Linked DNA regions of Homo sapiens. The protein of the gene in region 1 interacts with the protein of each later gene in a pairwise test. Each region holds a gene or a part of one and is shown on either strand. Other genes may lie near its edges.

Region 1 (3,942 bases):
CTGGTGGTCATTTCTGTGGGTCCTTAGGTTCACAGCCACTCTTCTTAGGATGGCATAAACTGTGCTCCAAGGAGCTACCTGCTGGAGCTTTAATAAAGCGGCCTCCCAAATGCACAAAGTAAAGAAAGAATCACTCTCCTAGAGAGCAATGCTGATGCTTTTCATGGGCTGCCTCTGTCTAATTTTACAGCCCTCAGTTATGAGTGACTTCATTGAAAGGCATCCCCTCACAAAGCATCACCCACAGGTAGAGGAGCACTTCCAACGTGGTCTTGGCTTGGCTGTCAATAAAGGGTTTGGGTGTTTCTTGGTTAACTCATTCAACACTGTGGTCTAGCCTGACCAACAGGCAGTGAATAGAAGGCTCTGAGGAGAGTTGCACTGGAGTTCCAACTCATCCTGATGCATTGCTGCCGTTTTTACCTTGCAATTAGAGCACCTAACTCAATCCTTGCTGTTCCCCTAGTGAGAAATGAGCATCAGCCCGCTGCTGCTGGGACTTTCTAAAGTTCCCCTACTAAGTTGCAGTCGAGGACTCGCTCCTTTCAGCTTCACTGGGCTTAGCATTTGTTCAGTTAGCAATAAATGGCCCTTGATACCAGAAAAAATGAGTGAGATTTTAAACCATTTATTTTTGGTTAACTAATGTCAAGAGACACCTCACCTAGTTTTTGGAAAGTAAATGCAAGTGGCAAGTGTGTGTGAGTTTGTGTGTGTGCACGTGTTCATGGATTCCTATTATTATCCTATTTCCATCAGTGGCCCTGCTCCTGCCCAGAGACTAACATAAGCTCCTTTACCATGGAAAATTGTTTTTGCACATGCAGTTTAGGGTGTAATGAGTGCAAAAAAGAAAGTTGTTATGTGGATTGGGATGAGGTGGGGAAAGGGGTGGGAGACAACAAAAGCAATGTTAGCTCATAGACATCAACACAAGCACAGAACCACAGGGTCAAGAGTCCTTCAGCCCTAAGAGAAATCACTCCTGCCCCATGACTCCCCAGTGAGACTCCCTATGGCCCTGAGTCTCTTATTTCTGGACACACAGTGATGGTCATCTGGATATAACGAACTAGGGAGCCCCAGACAGAGTCCATTGAATCCCGAAAGCCTAATGGGCTCCGTGGGCACTGGTCAAACTATGGCAAAGATGATGTTCGATGGGAAAGGGGCAGGGCCCACGTGCACATCCCCCAAGACACAAGCAGGAGAGCCACAAAGCCAGCCAGCTTACTGCCATCGTAGTTCAGCGTAGCGAAGTTGGCCTGCTTCTCCGCGCAGCCCGCACTGTTGCACACCCGCATCTGCAGCTCATACCAGGTGGCTTCCTGCAGGTCATACAGGATGTAGGACTTGGAGAGAGAGGTCCTCTGAGCTGTGGTCCAAACTGTGGTCCCAAAGGGCCTGTACTCTAGTGTGAAGGAGGTGATGGGGCAGCCGCCATCATTCCAGCCAATGAGGTTCAGCCTCACGCGTGTGGTGTTGATGCTGGCAAACAGCTCCTGCTCCTTTGAGAACTGGGGCTCTGGGGGAGAAGGCACATGGAGGTCAGCTCACAGGACACATGGGGAGGCCATCAGCATCTTCACGCATTTCCCTCGGACTGCTTCCTCCAGCGAGGCCAGGAGCTCAGTCCAAGTCTGGCTCACAGGCCACTGGCAACTTGTCCCCTGTTAATAGAGACTTTATGGACCAACAGGCTTTCTCCAACTGTAATGACCTGGGTGTGTGACAGAAAATTGCATGGGTGGAGGTTATTTTGGGGTATCTTAGAGTTCCCTAAAGAACAATAGGATGTTCACATATGGGTTTCCTTCTGTGGTTTGCGGGGCAGTGTGCTGGGCACTTTTTCCATCCTCATGTGATGAACCTGATTCAAGAGAAGACAGAGTTGGATTTGGGAAGCACCAACAGATTTTCCTCCACAACTAAACACTTGGTCTTGGTGCCCAGGGACCTAAAGGATATATTTCTGCATAAATCAATCCCCGATCATTTGACCTCTTACCACTTGTTACCCAAAACTGTGGCACCAGGCACAAATAATACCCTTGCTATCTCATTACTCGCTCTCCTGCCATCTGACCCCACCCCACCTGGTAGGACTCCTATGGGAGGGAAGCCTGCAAAGACATCTCCTCACCTTCTTCCTATGCCCACATAGAGCTGCATCATCCCTCCTTCCTTCTGGAGTTCCTGGGACAAAACCTCTTTCTCTGAATATGATTTCTTTGGGATTCATCTCCTTGAAAGTCCACATTTTAGATTAAAAAAAAAACAAACGCAATTTACCCCATCATTTTCCCTCTGAAAAGCGGTGGCTATGTGGCAATGTGGAAATGATAGGAAGGTGGGAGCAAGGGTGGCTAAGGGAGAAGGGCGCCTCCAAACGGCTGAGAGGGCAAGCGCCACGCTTCATGGCTGCCCAGCCTTGGCACCTCACATTCACACCAACGCCCTTGATTTTCAAACTGACATTCTTCTTTTTAACTGCAAATGAAACAATAAAAGAGAGGACCAGAACACTCTGGAAGGTCCAGCTGTCCCTCTCATTATGCCGTGGCACTGCTGAAGCCATGTGAGGAATGACAAAGTTCAAACACATAAACGTAAAACATGATGGATCTTTTATGATTCCAATCTCCTCTTCTGGCCGGGAAAAGAAAGGATATTAAGAAGCGATGAGAAGGCATACCTACCTTTTCCTAAGGTCTTTGCTTCTATGATTTCACTTATGCGCCCTGGGCCCACTCCATTTTGGGCTGTCAGTGTGAACTTATACCAAGTCCCACATTTGAGATTTTCCAAGCGATAGGAACGTTCGCTGGGGCTGATTGGAAAACTCCCCCACTGCTCACTATTGTCCTCGGAGTACTGCAGTATGTATCCTGCAGAGAATGAGAAAGATTCACATGAGCACTGTGTTTGCTTTCTATGGGAAGTGGACTGATGCTTGCATTTTGTGTGGGTAATAGAACGAGCATTCTCAGAACTGAAGAATCTTCAGAAGGAACATTTTCGCTCTTTCTGATTCCAGGAAATGTAACCCAGCCTGGGAGAAGCACCATGATGTATTGATTAGTGAGTCATTTGGGCCACACCAGACATTATCACTGTGAAGTATTGCTGTTTTCTGCTCATTCTCTTCTAAAAGCCATATTGAGCAGCAGGGAATACTTAAGTTGCCAAATATCTGTCCCTCAGATCATACATGCCTGAATCCTTGAGTGAAGACATAGGCTGAAGCTGTTATTTTTGCAAGACACTCGAATCTCTGGGAAAGGGATACATTATCAATGGGAGTAGAGATTTCTTCAACTGCCTCACTCCTCATGTACTCCTGGTCTCACAGTTCACAGACACTAGGAGAAACAGCTCCAAGTCTTGCAGCCATCCCACTATTCTGACAGTAACCTGGCTTCTCTTTGGTTTGAAAAATTCCTCCAACAATTCATTCCCCCACATGAGCACTACCTCTACTTTTACAACTAGTAAGGATGACTGTCCACTCTAGAGCACTCACTCCATGCCAAGCCCTGTCCTAAGCCCTTTGCTTACAGTATTTCTGCAACCCTATGGAACAGTGACGACTCTCCCACAGAACACGTGGGACACTGAAGTCCAGAGCAGTTAAGCGGTGAGTCCCAAGTGCTGAAAGGAGGATGCAGATCCTGCAGTCAGCCTGAAGCCCATGTTCTTCACCCCTGTGAATGCTGAAATATTCTTCCTGTTAACTCCTTCAGCCCTGTTATCTGCAGCCATGTTCCTTCTCCACCCTGGCTAGCTGGCCTGGAACATGGTGTGTTTGCAACAACGGGTTGGTACCTTCTATTCCTGTCCTGTGGAGCTCCATTTTAATAAAAATAAAGCATTTTTTTTCCCTGCACACTACAGTGTCTCCTAAACCCAAATGGGCAGGTTTGCTGATTTCCACACCCCTTA
Region 2 (3,500 bases), on another chromosome or scaffold:
CATAGTGGTGGCGGGGTGGATTACATGCATTTCTTTTCTTTTCTTCTTTTTTTTTTTTTGAGATGGAGTTTCGCTTTTTCACCCAGGCTGGGGTGCAGTGGTGCAATCTCAGCTCACTGCAACCTCCACCTTCTGGTTTCAAGTGCTTCTCCTGCCTCAGCTTCCCGAGTAGCTGGGATTACAGGTGCCTGCCACTACGCCCAGCTAATTTTTGTATTTTTAGTAGAGACAGGGTTTCACCATGTTGGCCAGGCTGGTCTCGAACTCCTGACCTCATGATCCACCCACCTTGGCCTCCCAAAGTACTGGGATTACAGGCGTGAACCACTGCGCCCCGCCTCTTCTTTTTTTTTTTTTTTTTTTTTTTAAGACGGAGTTTCTCTTGCCCACCCTGGAGTGCAGTGGTGTGATCTCGGCTCACTGCAACCTCTGCCTCCCGGATTCAAGGGATTCTCCTGTCTCAGCTTCCCGAGTAGCTGGGATTATAGGCGTGTGCCACTAATTTTTGTGTTTTTAGTAGAGACGGGGTTTCACCATGTTGGCCAGGCTGGTCTCGAACTCCTGACCTCAGGTGGTCCACCCATCTCGGCCTCCCAAAGTGCGGGGATTATAAGCATGAGCCATTGTGCCCAGACCTTTTTTTTTTCTTTTTTCTTTTTTTTTTTAAAGACAGGATCTCACTCCGTTTCCTAGGCTGGAGTTCAGTGGCATGATCATGGCTCACTGCAGCCTCTACCTCCCAGGTCCAAGTGATCCTCTCACCTCAGCCTCCTGAGTAGCTGGGACCACAGGTGTGCATCACCAGGCCTGACTAGACTGTTTTTTTTTGTTGTTGTTGTTGTTGTTGTTGTTTTTGAGACGGAGTTTCCCTCTGTTGCCCAGGCTGGAGTGCAGTGGTGTGATCTTGGCTCACTGCAACCTCCACCTCCCGGGTTCAAGCAATTCTCTGCCTCAGCCTCCCGAGTAGCTGGGATTACAGGCGCCCACCACCATACCTGACTAATTTTTTGTATTTTTAGTAGAGACGGGGGTTTCACCATGTTGGCCAGGCTGATCATGAGCTCCTGTCCTCATGATCCACCCGCCTCGGCCTCCCAAAGTGCTGGGATTACAGGCATGAGCCACCGTGCCCAACCCTAACTAATTTTTTAAGTTTTTGGATTTAGGAGGTCTCACTATGTTGCCCAGGCCGGTTTCAAACTCCTGGGCTCAAGTGATCTTCCCACTTCGGCCTCCCAAAGTGTTGAGATTACAGGTGTGAGCCACCACGTCCAGCCTTACATGGATTTCATATATGTACACAGATATCTCTAGGCAAGAAACTAGTCACGGAGTTGCCTTTGGGAGAGGTTACTGAGATTCTAGGGGTTAGAAATGTGAGGGAGACTTAATTGATACTTACATCCTCTATGGACATTGGAGTTTTTCATTATGTGCATGTATTACGTTTTTAGTGTAATGTTTGATACCTGCAAAGCAGTACATCCAACATGGTAAAGAGATTAAGTACATGGACCATGGAGCCAGACTGCCTCTCTCAGATCCCAGCTGAGTCTGTGGGCAAGTTCCTTAATCTCTCTGGGTCTCAGAGCCTTTGCTGTAAAATAGGAACAACGATAGTGCCTCCCTCGGGGTTGCCAGGAAGATCAGTGAGGAACCTGTGTCAGGTACTCAGAACAGGGCAGGGTGTATAGTATGCTCTCAGCATTAGCTGTTATAAATGTACAAGAATCATAAAACCAACAGACCATGAACCATCTTTTAAAAAACTATTTATTGATCATTTTCTGATAGTTGGGAGGGAACTTTTCTTTTTGCTTACTTTGATCTTAGTTTTTTAAAAGGGATTTGGGAGTGGAGTAAGGAGAGGGGATGACTTTTAGAGTTAGTTGGAGCTGTATGTCCCCCTCGATCCTGATGCGTGCACCAGCTCTGTGGCACGGCCCCAGACGAGTGCCTCCCTGTTGGAGCCTCAGTGTCCTGCTCTGTGCGGTGGGGATTTGTAGTGCACATCTCCCAGAGGAGATGCTTCGTGTCCTGGGAGCTGTTATGAGGTCACCTTTGCCACTTACCACTTGGCCTTTCCGTTTTAGATGTTGACGATGAGTATGAGGACGAGGACCAGTGGGAGGATGGAGCAGAGGACATTCTAGAGAAAGGTGTGTGTGAGCCCTGCCTCCACAAGACTACTGGGAAGAGGGTGGCTGAGAGGGTCTTCAGAGCCCATTCCCCCGACCCCCGCATCCCCTGTACACCCCAACTCCCACCGTCCTCACCTTGCTTCTTTCTGTCCTTCCCAGAGAGACCAGCTCCCTGCTTTTTCCTTTTAGGCCCATGAGTGGGGGGTGGGGCCCTGGGGTGGGGATGTTGTGGGGAGAGGACTCTGGGATCCCAGGGCCCAGTGAATCCCTTCTGGGGTTGTAGGGTGGGCGAGCTCTGTCCCAAGATACCCCCCACTTCCTGGGCCAGTGCCCCCCTTTCCCCGTTATTTTCCGTTCTGTGCGCCTCATACATTTCGGCTTCTCCCCAACCACCTGGTGCCTGGCCTTTACTTTTGGTTTTCAACCTTTCTGTGTCCCTCCCTTCCCCTCCCCCAACCCATTGGTTGATTTTGCTGCTATAATTTGGCTCATACTTTGTCTGCCCTCGCCCACCACCACCACCACCACCACCACCACCACCACCACCACCACCTCCTCTTCCTCCAAGTAGAAGAGATTGAAGGTAAGAATATGAAAAGTGTGATTCCCTGACCTTCCTCCCATATCCTGACATTTCCTCCTTCCTGAGGCACCTGCCCTCACCGGTAGCCTCCCCACCAGCCCCGGTCTGGCCCTGAGGGCTCTGACCCATGTAGGATCCAGAGTCAGGGAGTTCTGGGGCCAGGTATACCCCAGTTGTTGACCTGGGAAAGCACGGATGTGTCTGTCTGGGACTGAGCATTTGTGGGTGGTAGCGATGTGTGGGGTGGGGTGCAGTCCAGGGTGTGCCTGGACTTTGAGATGGGAACAGCTGGAAGCCCCCCAACTTGCTGGGCCCCATCCCCAGTCTTTTTGACAAGAAGCAGGATGCTGAGTAGGACAGAGTAGGGGATGAGGGGTTGGGATTTCCTCTGTGAGATGTCATCTTCCTGCCCCAGGGCCAAACCCTGGCCCTCTTAGCTGCACGCTCCTATTTTCTCCAGGCCCCTGCCCTCCACCTGCCCTTGCTCACGCCCTCTGCCCATTATTTTTCAGCCTCCAATATCGATAATGTTGTCCTGGATGAAGATCGTTCTGGGGCTCGCCGCCTGCAAAACCTCTGGAGGTGGGCAAGGAAGGGAAACGTGGTGGGATTGGCTCCTGTGGGGAGATTTGGGAGTAGGTCAGCCCACCTGCTGTCCTCAACCTTCAATTCGTGTTTGCTTCCCCACTCGTGCTCCAGGGACCAGCGAGAAGAAGAACTGGGCGAGTATTACATGAAGAAATACGCCAAGTCATCTGTGGGAGAGACGTAAGGGC
Region 3 (3,500 bases), on another chromosome or scaffold:
CACTGAGAGGCATGTTCAGGCTTGTTCTGAGACATAGATTTCCTTCATGTGGAAGATTCTGGACTTGGACAAGGTGGGAGGAAGCCAGCCCTGTTGAGCAAGCCCTGCTCTCAAAGAGTTTCAACCCTTACTTTCAAAAACTGTTTTACTAACTCAAACATCAAAAGCTCTACAGAAAAGCCAACCACCAAACAAAACCCTGCTGATGATGGGTTTTTAACTCCTTACTGCTTGAAACTTTGTGATAAATGTACATTTATTTGCCTAGCTGCAAACTCAACTCGTATTTTGCCTTTTTTCTTAACCAATATTTTATGTGTGTGTGTGTGTGTGTGTATATATATATATATATATATATATATTTTTTTTTTTTTTTTTTTTTTTGAGATGGTGTCTCGCTCTGTCGCCCAGGCTGGAGTGCAGTGGTGTGATCTCGGCCCACTGCAAGCTCTGCCTCCCAGGTTCAAGCGACTCTCCTGAGTAGCTGGGACTACAGGTGCATGCCACCAAGCCTGGCTAATTTTTGTATTTTTAGTAGAGATGGGGTTTCACCATATTGGCCAGGCTGGTCTCGAACTCGAGTCAGGGTAAAGTTTTTAGACATACAGGGAAAGATGACTAGGAAGAAAATGGAGAAGGCCAAGGTAATCTTATATTTATTACCAGTGACCATTGTGGCAGCAATGGTTGTTAGGTTTTATAATGTTATATCACTGCTCACCAAACAGAATTTGTTCTTTTGTTATGGAGCAGGTTCAGTAATAAGAGTTGGTGAGTATTATTCAGAAGAGAAGCTGCCTCTTGGGTTGAGTAATTAATAAAGTGATTCATTGGGAGGTAGTTTTTGTCTGTAAGAATCTCTAAGGAATGATCACAATGATAAGTTTTAGGACATCCCGTTTTAAAAACTGGACTCTTACAAACTTTGTTATCTAGATAGCATTAGGTATAACTAAATTGGGGAGACAAAAGTGAAAAACGATTAACCATATAAGGGTGGTTTCATGCAGGTACTGTGGATGTGTGCTGGGCCCTGTTCTGAGAGTTAGATACACAGTGGTAAATGAAGCCGATGATATATCTACCCTTATGGAACTCAAGAAAAACAGGGGGATGGACACAAAATGCCAGCTGTGGGATGTCAGTCATACATTCTGTGTTGTCTGCATCTCCCTGGGTTCCCTGCCCAGCACACTTGTGTTCAGACACAATGAATGCACTGACACATGGAAACAGCACATACTGCAATGTGTTCATTTTAAGTGGCTCAACCTCATCAGCAGGGCTTCTCTGTGCTTTAAATTACAGTAAAAACAAATGAAAAGTGAAATGAAAAGGTAGACATATAGAATATCAGTCTACTTTTTTTACTCGTAGAATCAAAAGACATTTTCCCATGTCAAATTGCTGTAAAAGTTTTTGTTTTTGTTTTCTTTTTAAAAAAGTATAAGAAACTCAGGTGATATAAAAGTTTTTATATACTTTTAATTTCAGAAATGATCTTGCTGTGGTCAGCAGACCACACTTTGAGGAACACTGAACTGGCAGGATTGAATTTGTAGCAGGGCTCTTAGTAAACTGTGGGTGGTTGGTGTGTTAGTGAGCTGGAGAATTGAGGACTGTTGTTTGTGCCTAGTATTTGGTTCTCCCACCCTTTGAACATTGGGGAGCTACAGCAGGTGCTGCTTACAGCTTTATGCTTTAGTGCCAAAACGTCTTTGACCCCTGTGCTTTGGAACTGTCTCAGATATGGCTAAATATGAACAAGTTATCCTATTAAATTTAAATAAATGAAAGAAAAACCCCACTTTTACATTATAACTTTAAAAAATCCTTCATATGATAAATAGGGCCTTAACTTACCAGTTATGAATCGATAGTTATAATCAAATGATACTAAAGCGCTCATACCAAAAGTCAGAGTCATCCTGTTCTCCAGAAGCATGTTTTCAGTGCTTTTAGCTGCTACATCTGAAATTTATTGCTATATTTGTAAATTATGTACTTATGTGGCTAGTTCATTTATCAGTTTTATACATTTATTGACGTCCTCTAGCAGTAGTTGTAGTTATTGAACTAGTTAGTTCAATAGTAGTTGAATATTTAACTCCTATACTTGCTGCCTCCCTTAAGTGGGCATACCATAATTTTGGGTTAAAGTGATAGTTGTTTCTTTTATCATGACTATGTAAATACCATTTATATGTGAGCTAAACAGTCTCATACGATTACATTTCCTTTTTTAAACAACACCCCTGCCCCCACATCGCTTTTAGTTTTTCATTTGCTTAGTTTTCTTTGTACCTATCATCACCTTCCTCCTCAGATACCCTAAAAGGTATAACAAATGCCTAACAAAGTTTAGTCTTTATCACATTTTCCAAATGCTTAATTTAACACCACACGTCAGATAATTTATTGTTGCAAGATAACCTGTTGATTTCAATTTTTTCTCCCTGGAGTTTCCTCATAGCTATGCAGGTATGGTTGCCCCTGGACCTGGCATGTAGCTATTATTGTCCTGGAATGTCTGTTTCCTGGATACTGCAGTCTTCCTTTTTGGTTTACTATCTTACTTTCCTGAAGCACATCCTCTAGTAGTTTTAAAAGAAAGGGTATATGGGTATTAAGGTTTTAAGTCCTTGTATGGCTGAAAATCCCTTTTTCTTATCACTGCCTCATCTTCTCTTGTCTGGAACATAACTGCTTTCGATTTCTTTAGGGACTAAATCTCTGGTTTCCTGTGGGTATGGAGTGATGTGAGGCAGTTACCAGACTGTGTAAGGCAGAGAAAGGGGACCTGGGGCTTTCAACCACTAAATATGCAAACTTTCATCAGTTCTGATTTTGGCCTTGCACCTCACTTGGTATTGGTTTATTCCAAATGATGACCTTGTCAGGGTTTTGTAGGTCCAACTGTCTCACTTCTTTTTGGTATCCTTTAGTAGGCACTTAGGTTGTAATTTTTACCTCTTAGTTACTACTCCATCCACTTTTTATTTTATCTTTTTTTTTTTTTTTTTTGAGACAGTCTCACTGTTGCTTAGGCTGGAGTGCAGTGGCGCCATCTTGGCTTACTGTAGCCTCCGCCTTGTGGGTACAAGCAATTCTCTTGCCTCAGCCTCCCAAGTAGCTGGGACTGCAGGTGCGGACCACCATGCTCGGCTAATATTTGTACGTTTAGTAGAAATGGGGTTTGACTATGTTGGCCAGGCTGTTATCGAACTCCTGACCTCAGGTGATCCCCCTGCCTGGGCCTCTCAAAGTGCTGGGATTACAGGCATGAACCACTGCCCCTGGTCTGCCTGTCTGTCTGTGTCTTTTGAGACAGAGTTTTGCTCTGTCCCCCAGGCTGCAGTACAGTGGTGTGATCACAGCTCACTGCAGCCTCAACCTCCTGGGCTCAAGCAAACTTCCCACATCAGCCTCTTGAATAGCTGGGACTACAGGTGTGCACCACCATGTCCAGCTAAGTTTTTTTTTTTTGTTTTTTTTTTTTT
Region 4 (3,500 bases), on another chromosome or scaffold:
TTTTTTTTTTTGAGACAGAGTCTCGCTCTGTCGCCCAGGCTGGAGTGCAGGGCGTGATCTCGGCTCACTGCAACCTCTGCCTCCCAGGTTCAAGAGATTCTTCTGCCTCAGCCTCCCAAGTAGCTGGGACTACAGGCGTGTGCCACCATGCCCAGCTAATTTTTGTATCTTTAGTAGAGACAGGGTTTCACCATATTGGCCAGGCTGGTCTCGTACTCCTGACCTGGTGATTCGCCCACCTCAGCCTCCCAAAGTGCTGAGATTACAGGCGTGAGCCACAGGGCCCGCCGTATTTGATTTTTAAAGGTATTGAGGGGGTGGGAACTTTGCTTATGACATGATGGGTTTAGCCTGTGCCTTGGACTTAATAGACACTTAGAGGCTATTGGTTTCTGCTCAATGGCTCCAGGCCCCATGGGATTTCAAGTCGGGGAGGTATTCCTCAGATTTGGTGTCAACAAAAAGAAAGCCAAATCCATTTTGTCTTGGCCTATTGTTATTATTGTTACTTTTTAGCTTCAGAGAGGATACTGAAACTTTTATAATGAAGGCAACAAAGTCTTTCATTATTTAGGAAAAGAGGGACAGATCTTAAATGTGTTATAGACTGCCTTTTTTTTCCTCCCTGCCAACCCAACTTACTGATGAAACAGCATTTTAAAAAGTCATGTGAGGCCGGGTGCAGTGGCTCACACCTGTAATCCCAGCACTTTTTGGGGCTGAGGCAGGTGGATCACTTGAGTCCAGGAGTTCCAGACCAGCCTGGCCAACATGGCAAAACCCCATCTCTACTGAAAATACAAAAATTAGCCAGGTGTGGTGGCACATGCCTGTGATCCTAGATACTCGGGAGGCTGAGGCAGGAGGATGGCTTGAACCCAGGAGGCAGAGGTGGCAGTGAGCTGTGATTGTGCCACGGCACTCCAGCCTGGGCGACAGAGCGAGACTCTGTCTCAAAAAAGTAAAATAAAATAAAAAGTCATATGAGTTAGTGGTTAAGTAGATGACCCACTGAAATTATTACACTGTGTCATTTCTCTGATGTTTGCTTAATGAAAAATTTTTAAGCCTAGTGTTTCTCAAACTTTAGAGTGCACATAACTCCCCTAAAGAGTTGGTTAAAGTGTAAACGCTGATTCAGTAGGTCTAAGTGGGGCCTAAACTTATGCATTTCAATAAGGATCCAGCTTTTGCTGCCCCCAATGTAGCAAGGCATCAGGTTTTATATGGAAGACAGGTGGGATTGCTTCATGGTTTCGGTTCTTGTCCTTGCCAGTTTGAGTTTGTATTTCTCTTTGATCTGTCCAGGTTTGGTCGCTGGCTACGGTAGCTACAGATCTTTGCCTTGGTCCGAAATCTGACCCAGATTTGGAAACACCCTGGGCTCGACATCCATTTGGGCGGCAGCTGCTGGAGTCCCTGTAGGTTTTGAGAGCTAAAAATGAGAAAAATGAGTGATGTCCATTTTTGGTCTGTAAACACTTGAAATGTCACCACCTAAGAGAAAGGTGCAGAGGCCCGAGGAATGAAAGGAAGGAGTAGGATCTTTCCTTTCAGTGCTGAAATAATTTCTGTGCAGAACAAACTTCTTATAGCAGACAGAACCATACATTACTTGTCATTTATAACAAGGATTTGAGACCCCTGAGACTCATGTATCCTTTAGAGATTCATGCTTTAGTCCATAAATCACATCAGTCTGAATACAGGAGTTTGAGCTCATGAGATGGTAAGTTTCTTCTTGAAAGCTCTAGGGTCTCACCCTTGAGAATGGATTAGAGAATTGCATGTTGGTGTTCATGTTTGCCAAAGACCACGACGCTTTCACCCTGTTAGGCAATTTGAGAAAACATTGCCTTTGCGTTCAGTTTATTGCACTGACATATGGAAAACTAGGGTATACTATACAAAATAATTTAACACCAAGTAAAACCACTTGAATCTCCATAACTTGGAGGCCCAGGGCCTGGGGAGAGAAACGCTCCTGACTTCAAGTTGAAGTTTGCTTAATTTATGCATTAAGGCCACCCCTGGGACACGTGTTCGTGCTTCCGTTTCCTTGTCACTAACACAGGGATGATAAGGTTTACTCTACTTATTTCGTGTAAGACTCAAATAAGATAGTGAGTGTGAAAACACAAATATTAGACATTGAGTGATAGGAGGACATTAATATTATTCATTCTTAAAGGCAAAGCCCCTCTGATTCCTTACTCACATTCTAGCATAATCTTCCTGAAAGGACAAAGGGGATATGAGTACCTAAAGGACAGAAACACTCCTTGTTGTTCTTACCTAATAGCTCATCTTCATAACTGCACCTCCAGAGTCGATTGCCTGCTAGCATGCTGTGGCGGTCCAGTGTCCTCTGAGCTCCTTCATGTAGCTTTAGGTTATATAAATGACATGTGTGGGAATCCCCCAAAAGCAGTGTGATTCTTCCTTGGAGCTGGGAAGACAGAGCATGTATTGGCTCGCTCAGATGTCAGGTTAGTCCACTTAGTTCTTGGAGAAGCCACATTCATGTTTAAGCCCATGCCTGAAAGTTAGCCAGAGGCTTTGAGATGCGTTCTGTAGATCATTTGTAGTACGTGGATGCCTTATATTCCAAAACAAGTTTAGGCAAACTCAAAGTAGGTCAAACTGCCGGATCTGTAGAAAGCCCCATTTCCTGATGGGTTTTTGAGGCAGAATCAAGACTCCTCCCTTCCCACCCCTGTGGCAGTAACACGCCATGACTGTGACCGCTTTCCTCCTCAATCCCTCCTCCTGACTTGTTTTCTTTCCTCTTATCTTTTCCTCAGGTTGGCTCACTATTGCCGGCTCCGGGATGTTCAGACACTGGCGATGCTCTGTAGCGTGTTTGAAGCCCAGTCTCGGCCTCAGGGGCTACCAAACCCCTTTGGGCCTTTTCCTAACCGTTCTTCTAATCTTGTGGTGTCCCATAGTCGATATGTAAGTTTGTCCTTTTCTGGTTTTGTCTGATTTTTTTTTTTTTTTTTTTTTGAGACGGAGTTTTACTTTGTTGCCCAGGCTGGAGTGCAATGGCATGATCTCAGCTCACTGCAACCTCCGCCTCCTGGGTTCAAGCAATTCTCGTGCCTCAGCCTCCTGAATAGCTGGGATTACAGGCATGCACCACCACTCTTGGTATATTTTTGTGGTTTTAGTAGAGATGAGGTTTCACCATGTTGGCCAGGCTGGTCTCGAACCCCTGACCTCAGGTGTTCCACCTTCCTTGGCCTCCCAAACTGCTAGGATTACAGGCATGAGCCACCGTGCTTGGCCTGCTGTTTTCTTAATGTGAACTGTCATGGGGAATGGTATTCTCATGCTAGTCCTGTTGGTTCTTCTCTTCCCTTCTGTAGCCTAGCTTTACCTCTTCTGGTTCCTGCTCCAGTATGTCAGACCCAGGGCTCAACACTGGCGGCTGGAACATAGGTTTGTATGGAAATGACTTAGCCCACGCTGGATTTTTAGTTCTCCCAGAGCTGTGCATA

Evidence for each region. The genes of interacting proteins can lie anywhere in the genome.
Region 2: the proteins of DSCAM (region 1) and SUPT5H interact in a two-hybrid assay, tested with the Homo sapiens proteins (one large-scale study listed by BioGRID and IntAct).
Region 3: the proteins of DSCAM (region 1) and MAP4K4 interact in a two-hybrid assay, tested with the Homo sapiens proteins (one large-scale study listed by BioGRID and IntAct).
Region 4: the proteins of DSCAM (region 1) and WDR59 interact in a two-hybrid assay, tested with the Homo sapiens proteins (one large-scale study listed by BioGRID and IntAct).

What each region holds. Positions count from the first base shown.
Region 1 is NC_000021.9:40,077,453-40,081,394, forward strand, and holds part of DSCAM (cell adhesion molecule DSCAM isoform CHD2-42 precursor), read right to left. Parts: intron 2,889-3,942; coding exon 2,700-2,888; intron 1,526-2,699; coding exon 1,235-1,525; intron 1-1,234. UniProt on the Homo sapiens protein: Cell adhesion molecule that plays a role in neuronal self-avoidance. Promotes repulsion between specific neuronal processes of either the same cell or the same subtype of cells.
Region 2 is NC_000019.10:39,455,582-39,459,081, forward strand, and holds part of SUPT5H (transcription elongation factor SPT5), read left to right. Parts: intron 1-2,093; coding exon 2,094-2,159; intron 2,160-2,712; coding exon 2,713-2,724; intron 2,725-3,236; coding exon 3,237-3,306; intron 3,307-3,423; coding exon 3,424-3,492; intron 3,493-3,500. UniProt on the Homo sapiens protein: Component of the DRB sensitivity-inducing factor complex (DSIF complex), which regulates mRNA processing and transcription elongation by RNA polymerase II.
Region 3 is NC_000002.12:101,704,207-101,707,706, forward strand, and holds part of MAP4K4 (mitogen-activated protein kinase kinase kinase kinase 4), read left to right. Parts: intron 1-3,500.
Region 4 is NC_000016.10:74,887,624-74,891,123, reverse strand, and holds part of WDR59 (GATOR2 complex protein WDR59), read left to right. Parts: intron 1-1,308; coding exon 1,309-1,421; intron 1,422-2,804; coding exon 2,805-2,955; intron 2,956-3,368; coding exon 3,369-3,441; intron 3,442-3,500. UniProt on the Homo sapiens protein: As a component of the GATOR2 complex, functions as an activator of the amino acid-sensing branch of the mTORC1 signaling pathway. The GATOR2 complex indirectly activates mTORC1 through the inhibition of the GATOR1 subcomplex.